2 separate regions of the Homo sapiens genome follow, and region 2 is linked to region 1. Evidence: fine-mapped QTL for protein levels in blood plasma. A gene starts in region 1. The other region holds a variant in brackets. All regions are shown on one strand. Distances are between the middles of the regions.

Region 1 (4,000 bases):
AAGCAAAAAAGCATAGTAAAATCAACTTGCATGAACATGCATAACTTTGACAAAGGTCCTGTTCATATAACCAAAATCACCAGATCCATACATCTATTTTTACTGCTTAACTTCTACATATAATTAAATGTACCATAAATTCAATCTGGTTGATTGCATAATACTTGACTGTAAAGAATAATGCTAGCATGATATCATAGAACCATGTTCTAAGAAATAAATAAAAGCAACCATTTACAGTAAAGCCATAGTGAGATTGATATATTTTACGTTATATTATTATTTTAATTTGACCTCTTTTCTTGTATTTCATTATAATATAATATATACATAATGTAGATGAAATTTGTATTCATTTCAGTAACTATTAAGTCCGCTTTCATTTTCAGGTGAAGTCCAAAGATATGATGATTCCCCAAATTTTGTTTTTCCAAATGTCTCTTTGGCATCAGTTGACATTTCAAAGCCTCTCCACTGTTCTTTTAACTTCTGTAGTGTTTCTTTCTCCTTTTGCCACACCAGATCTCATTTTTAAACCTACCCTAGTTTCAGGCTATGATCTTCTCCTCTTCTATCAATAGCACCTATTACCCTTACTCTCTTTGCACAGAGAGAACTCCCCAAGACCTTCTCATTTCTCTCCAACCTGGCTTTCTGCAGCATCTACTGGCCCTCTGCACTCTGAGCATGACGAGGTAGCTTATTCCTCCAAAATACCCAGAATCCAAATGAGGGAAGAGAATGTGAGAGAAGGTACTGACTTACGTGTACATTTCAGAGTGTTGATGGGCCACAGTCCTGTGAGAGGGCAGATAAACTTTCTCATCCCTCCTCGGGACACATAGCCCGGCTTGCAGGAATACGTAATCTCTTCTCCTGGCTCATAGAATGTTTTTAACGGGACCACTGTGGAAAATGGTAAATCATCTGGCTTGGGACAGGCTGAAAGAGGGCACAAAGCAGATGGTTAACAAATCTCTATTTGCATTTTAAAGTTCAGCTAAGCCCACAAATGAAAAATGTGTGTACTGTTACCAATTATAAGCATACCAAGTTGCATGCCAAATACCTCATATACACTATCTCATCTAATCCCCTCAACAACCATTTGAAGGAGGTATTATAATTATCCCCATTTTACAGGTCAGTATGCTGAGGCTTAAATTGGCTACGTATCTTACAGAGGAGCTTTACACATGGCAATATTAAAGAATCAGTATCAATCCAGTCCCTCCAGCATCCACTCTAAAGAGAATTTAGTTATCAGCTGGGCGCAGTTGCTCACACCTGTAATCCCAGCACTTTGGGAGGCTGAGGCGGGTGGATCACGAGGTCAGGAGATAGAGACCAACCTGGCTAACACGGTGAAACCCCGTCTCTACTAAAAATACAAAAAATTAGCCGGGTGTGGTGGCGGGCGCCTGTGGTCCCAGCTACTCGGGAAGCTGAAGCAGGAGAATGGAGTGAACCCAGGAGGCGGAGCTTGCAGTGAGCCGAGATCGCACCACTGCACTTCAGCCTGGCGACAGAGCGAGACTCTGTCTCAAAAAAAAAAAAAAAGAATTTAATTATTCTTCTTCTTATTATTATTATTGTTGACTGAGTTTTGCTCTTGTTGCCCAGACTGGAGTGCAATGGGGGGACCTCGGCTCACTGCAACCTCTGCCTCCCAGGTTCAAGCAATTCTCCTGCCTCAGCCTCCCGAGTGGCTGGGATTACAGGCGCCTGCCATCACGCCCGGCTAATTTTTGTGTTTTTAGTAAAGACAGGGTTTCACTATGTTGCCCAGGCTGGGCTCGAATTCCTGACCTCAACTGATTCGCCCACCTCGGCCATGATGCCCAGCTAATTTTTGTATTTTTCATAAAGACGGGGTTTCACCATGTTGGCCAGACTGGTCTCGAACTCCTGACCTCAGGTGATCCACCTGCCTTGGCCTCCCAAAGTGCTGAGATTACAGATGTGAGCAAGCACGCCCGGCCTACTTATCATTATTGATCCCTGACATATACGAAGGGGTTGGATATATTAATTATTTTTTCAAAAGCAAAAAGTACTTACTCCGTCCTGCAATAGCAACATGGCAGAGAAAACTCGAGAACAAGATGAGCACTGGAGAAATCATTGTGGATGAGTCACACTGGCACTACCAAAGTGGTTTTCGTCTGCTAAAAAGACAGAGCCAAATATGAAAGCGCTTAAACATTAACCATTTTCTGGTGTACTTTTATCTTTGTAAATAGAAGATAAAGTATCATGATTTGAATGGAACTCTGAGACCCACATTCTTTAATCATTTACTTTCCACTTATGTGGCTCTGTTATGAAATCTTTGGGAGATGGTTTCTGTCTTCATAACGTTTTTGTTAATGGCACAAAACAGTTCATTATTGCTTTTGACAGAAACTTGTTGTTTCCGGGGTTGCCTGGACTTCTCATTCTCCATCTTTTGTTTTGTGTATGTTGTAGATGGAACACCAAAAGATCGAAGCTCCTGTTTCACTCACAGCCTTGGCATATAAACTTTGGACAAACACCTACTCTCTGTTCTCAGTCTCCACCTCTCTAAAATGATGTTCCAGTTTTCAGATGTATAATTACAAAGAATGTCTTCCAGGAGGCACTTACAACTTTAATTCCCTACAAACTGAGCTCAACATCCTCTCTTGCAAGCTCCTATAGCTCCAGTTAGGACCTTAGAGCTATCCTTGAATTCTCTATCTTCTCTTACGTCAGATCAATACAAAGTCCTCCTCATCCATTCTTAATATGTCTTGGATCTGTCTAGACAGGTTTCTAGATCTGTTTCAGGAATTTGAAAATTGATTTGAAATTAACAACTTGGGACTCGAAGAAGAAAAAAAAACTTGAGTAGGATAAGATAATGGGCCAGTGCTGATGTTGTTGCTTGAGAGGGTTCGGAAGGGGGGTTGTCTTTGATTCCCTAGTTCTCTTCTACATCATTTGCTCTAAAAAAAAAAAAAAGGATATATAAATGGACAATAGCCAGGCCATATGTGAAAACAGAACTCTGACCCACACATCTGTAGCAACAGGTCTAGAAAGCCAAACCTACAACCTCTATAGCAGTTGGCCCAACTTAAGGCCAACCAGAGAAATCCAAACATATTTCTCTAACCAATCACATGGACACCTCACTTCTAGTTAGTTTCCTTCCATCCTCCCCATACCAACAATCCGTTGGAGCACACCTGAAGCCTTTCCTTTTTTCTATTATAAAGCTTTCCCACTCCTCTGTCTGACTTTGACTTTGAGTCTCTGCCAAACACAACTGTTAATGGCTGCCTCCCTTCCTATAGCAAGCTCTGAATAAATAACCTCCGCTTGCTCTCATTTGGGTGATCTTGGTTTATATCCAGAGGTCTAAAATTCCCTGAGACACATCAGCTTGAGAAATCTCCATCTGTCAGGCAGATGATTCTTAAATTACGATCCTAATGAACATTGTGTTCCATGATAAGAAGAGTGTGCTGCCACTAATGTGAAATAACAGTGGTCCTTCCCTATTTGTCCTTCTAAGGGGAAGGAGATTCTTGTTCTCTGGATAATTCCCAGGTTCCGCTTTATTGTGGAGAATCTCCTTGATGAATGAAGAAGAAAGAAAACTAATGAAGTCAGGAGGAGCCAAGTCGTTCTGTATAGTAAGATCTGAAGTAGAAGGGGAAAAGGAGAGAGAAACCAAAGAGGTCGGGCATCAGTTAAAGAAAATTTGAGAAAAGGTTAAAATTGAGACGAGAATATTTTCAGCAACAGCTACAAACTGAGTGCCTGATATTGAGAGAGGACAAGGAGAAGGGTTTTTAATGATGTTTCCTGGTGGCTGGGCTCCCTTGCATTAGGAAACTTGGGGTAGGGGTGTCGAAATAGTTTATATTCTATTTTAGGTGGTTGTTACTTGGCTACATGCAATTTTCAAAAGCCATCAAGCCAAATATTTAAGATCTGTGTGTTTACTTGATTATACTTCAATTGGAAAACT
Region 2 (4,000 bases), 15 kb before region 1:
GTGTGACATTTTGTGTGGAATCTGAAAACCACCTTAGCATGGCTTTACATCGGATGCATCAGTTTTCCAAAAAGCCAGAGAACTGTGTTCTGTTGGGGGAGAAAAAGATAAACATTCTAAGAGAAACAATCATTTCTTAAATGTGGTAAATAGCTAAGCCAAACCAAATACATTTTACGAGTATATAGAATACATGTGATTATGTGAATGAAACCATTTAGTGTGAGGTTTAAGTGATGGGAGAAAACATTAGGGAAATGATAAGACCCTCATTTTCTTTTTCTTTTTCTTTTTCCTTTTTTTAAGACAGAGTCTCGCCCTGTTGCCCAGGTTGGAGTGCAGTGGCACAATCTCAGCTCACTGCAACCTCTACCTCCCAGGTTCAAGTGATTCTCCTGTCTCAGCCTCCCGAGTAGCTGGGACTACAGGCACGTGCCACCATGCCTGGCTAATCTTTGTATTTTTAGTAGAGACTGGGTTTCACCATGTTGGCCAGGCTGGCCTCCTGACCTCAAGTGATCCGCCCGCCTTGGCCTCCCAAAGTGCTGGGATTACAAGTGTGAGCCACTGCGCCTGGCCAAGATCCTCATTTTCAAGAGATAAAATTAAAGGTTCTATATACAGTGAAGACTGTTCTATAACAGTCAAGATTAAAGGGGAAAAAACAGTATCGGCCCTTTACAGTACTGCATCTGTCCAAAGACCATAAGGGAGAAGATCCTGAAGAAATATATCAACAAAGCTAAGACTTTTTTCAATTATTCTTTTCTCACATTTTTTCTACTGATTTTTATTTAAGCTTATTGTATTTTGTCATGTTTTGTATTTAACATCTCACCAGGGCTCTGCTGTCTTTTGAATAATGGCAATTTATTCAGTGCATTTGTAACTATTTACAATTAAAATTATATTCCTCCATGTCATGCATATTTCTAATAATCAAACCAACCCCATGAGGTGGGTATTTTTAATCAGTTATCATTCCCTTCTCTCCCACTAGCTGGACACTTCTCAGACTCCTCTCTTCTTAGCTTTGTCTGCTCCCTACTGTCCTCTCCCACCTGCTAAAACAAGATTGTCAATGTTTTTGAAAGATTTCTAAACCTAGAGCCAAGGACAGCTTCAGCCTCTGGCTGGTTCTTACTTTCTGGCATCAGAGACATTTCAACCCTAAATCTGAAACCTTAAAAGGTTAGCAGCTCTAAACGCTGGCCATTACACACTTCTTTATCTCACACAAACCTGGTATCATTCTCCTTAAAATATTTTGCTCTAATGGATACTTTGCTCTAATGGATACTTTTCAAACTCTACGAATTGCTTGAGAAAGGGGAAATGTTAGATCTTTAGACCAATTATCATTGCCATGAGTTGTTTTGTCACTTGGGGTGAGTTCTCTATAATGTGGGACCAAGATGAGGTAGATATTTTATTATTCAATATTTGGTTCATTATTATTCAAGCTCAACTTGGAATTATACAAGATGGCATCATTCACCTCAGCATTCATTGAATATAACCACAACCCTGAGTTTTACAGAAAAGACTTAGAAAAGAGGCTGGGCGCGTAGCTCATGCCTGTAATCCTGGCACTTTGGGAGACTGAGACAGGTGGATTGCTTGAGTCCAAGGGTTCAAAACCAGCCTTGGCAACATGGCATAATCTCTTCTCTAATAAAAATATAAAAAATAGCTGGACATGGTGGTGCGTGCATGTAATCTCAGCTACTCAGAAGGCTGAGGTGAAAGGGTCACTTGAGCCCAGAAAGTAGAGGCTGCAATGAGATGTGATCGCAACACTGCACTTCAGCCTGGGTGACAGTGAGACCTTGTCTCAAAAAAAAAAAAAATTGGAAAGGAAAATGCAAGTGGGGACGCCATCTGCAGCTCACTGCTTCATATCATTGTTTCTCCCTCTCACCCCTCTTTTTAAAAACCCAGTGGCCAAATTCATCTGTGTTTTGTTTGTTTTTGTTTTGAGACGGAGTTTCGCTCTGTTGCCCAGGCTGGAGTGCAATGGCGCGATCTCGGCTCACTGCAACCTCCACCTCCCAGGTTCAAGTGATGCTCCTGCCTCAGCCTCCCAAGTAGCTGCGATTACAGGCACCCGGCACCACAGCAATTAATTTTTGTATTTTTAGTAGAGACAGACTTTCACCTTTTTGGCCAGGCTGCTCTCAAACTCGTGACCTCAGGTGATCCACCCGCCTCAGCCTCCCAAAGTGCTGGGATTACAGGCGTGACCCACCGCACCTGGCCTCATCTGGTTTTTGACAATCATTATAGAACAAAGGCTCTGATTATGATGACGGGCAAGTGGGAGTCCTAGCTAAACGTTCCAATGCAGACTTACCCTTGAAGC[A/C]TTTGGGGACTTCGATAGTGCCATCTATACACTGAGCATCCTCTGTATAGCTACACTTCTTTTCCTTATTTTTGCAGAAGAAAGAAACTTTATCACCATGTAGCATTCCATTCTTAAATTTTTCCTGAATCTTTACTCTCTCTCCTTGGTACACCACAGTGGCTTTTTTCACAGGTACTTTACAAGATGCTGAAAGAGAGAATACTTGTAATCAGGACTTAAGAGTTCAGGAAGTCTTTCTGAAAGAGAGTATAGCATTTGAAACAGTAGATGAGTACACCTACACAAATTGGTCAAGGCAAGAAAAATCCAAGAATATATATAGTAAGTAATGGTAATATGATTGCTAATTGCAGTTCTCTGTCAATAGAACCATTATTCATAGCTTCCAAGATGGCCTTCTCTTCCCCTACAGTAGCCACAGAAGGTCAGAACAGAAGCATCAGAGCCTCCATTTCAGTGAAAAAAAAAAAAAAAAGCAACTAACAGATATTGACATTTCATGTAAGCCTACTCTGCCCTCTCAGATTGCATTCATTAAGCAGGTGCATCTATCCACCAGCCATTGTGAGTGTTGGCTGATAACAGCTCATAAATACTCTGAAAAATTGCCTTCAGCCATAGGGAAGCCACCTCTCCCAGGAGTTTATGCAAACCACCCCCAGGGTCAGGGAAGGGAGCAGCTCAAAGCCAAAGACTGACTGATGAGGGAATATAAAAAGCAGGTCCCCTTGGCTCTTAGTGGGATTAACTCAAGGGTGGAATTCACACTCCAGAGCTCCCAGTGGGATCAAACTGAACCTCATTTTAGCAGAGACCACATTTCTCCCTGGCTCGGCAGCATTAGCATCACCAGGGAACCTGGCATAAATGCAAATTGTCAGGCCCCATCCCAGATCTACCAAATCAGAAACTCTAAGAGTGGAGCTCAAAAATCCTGTGTTAAAACAAGCCTTCCAGGTGTTGCTGATCCACAGCGAAGTTTGAGAACCGGTGCCTTACCCTCGCAAATCTGCCTCACTCTTTCTTCTCCTGAGACATTCACTAAATCAACTGTACTCGAATCCCCGTCTCAGGCTCTGCTTCTAGGGAACTGTAACCTAAGATGCTAGTTATTTGTCATCTTGCCTGCTGCCCCAGAGTTCCTCTTTCTGCTTAAACTGTCCAGCCCATAGTGACCTGAGCAGAGTTCTAATGCTAGGCTGTTGTTGTTCTTTACTTATGCATGACACTGATGGGATCAAGGGTAGACACCTAACTCAAAAGGAACCAGTGTCTCCAGGAAAGATGCCAGTTGGTGATGAATCCTGTAACTGAGAGGGTCTGGTGTATATCAAGCCATGTTCAAGATGAATAAGCAGAGAGACGGAAATGGGAGAGACCATTGAGATACGGAAAAAGTAGGAATAGTTCCTGCCTTTCAGTTCCAATCTTCAGGAGTATCAGTTGTATTTCATGTCTTCATCTTCAATGCCCACATGATCGACTTGCCTGTTGCCTCCTTATAATATCCCCAATTTCCTTGAACTCACTCGAATGTGTGGTTGGTTTTTGCAATGAGAAGAGCCTTGGCTAGACAGAGCACAAAAAGGGGTGGGCATGGTGGCTCACATCTGTAATCACTCGAACCTGGGAGGT

Direction of the effects. Positions count from the first base shown, and alleles are read on the strand shown. Strength reflects both the effect of a copy and how common the allele is.
As copies of C replace A in region 2, the plasma level of the protein whose gene starts at base 2,161 in region 1 goes down (strong association).

The links. PIP is the posterior inclusion probability: the model's chance that the variant is causal. The UK Biobank Pharma Proteomics Project read protein levels with antibody pairs (Olink). The fine-mapping took linkage between variants from a reference panel, not from the people measured, so its PIPs are less certain.
Region 2: its variant is fine-mapped to the plasma level of the APOH protein (UK Biobank, PIP above 0.99). The variant lies in the coding sequence of APOH. If it changes the protein, the assay may bind it differently, which can mimic a change of level.

What each region holds. Positions count from the first base shown.
Region 1 is chr17:66,227,255-66,231,254 of GRCh38, forward strand. It overlaps APOH (apolipoprotein H), which reads right to left and starts at 2,161. Exons shown (of 8, transcript NM_000042.3): 1 at 2,062-2,161; 2 at 766-942. The coding sequence starts at 2,125.
Region 2 is chr17:66,212,100-66,216,099 of GRCh38, forward strand. It overlaps APOH (apolipoprotein H), which reads right to left. Exons shown (of 8, transcript NM_000042.3): 7 at 2,354-2,551; 8 at 1-89. The coding sequence ends at 34. Among named protein-coding and RNA genes, the nearest start is that of APOH, 15 kb to the right of the region's middle. The variant A/C (reference allele first, on the strand shown) is at 2,363.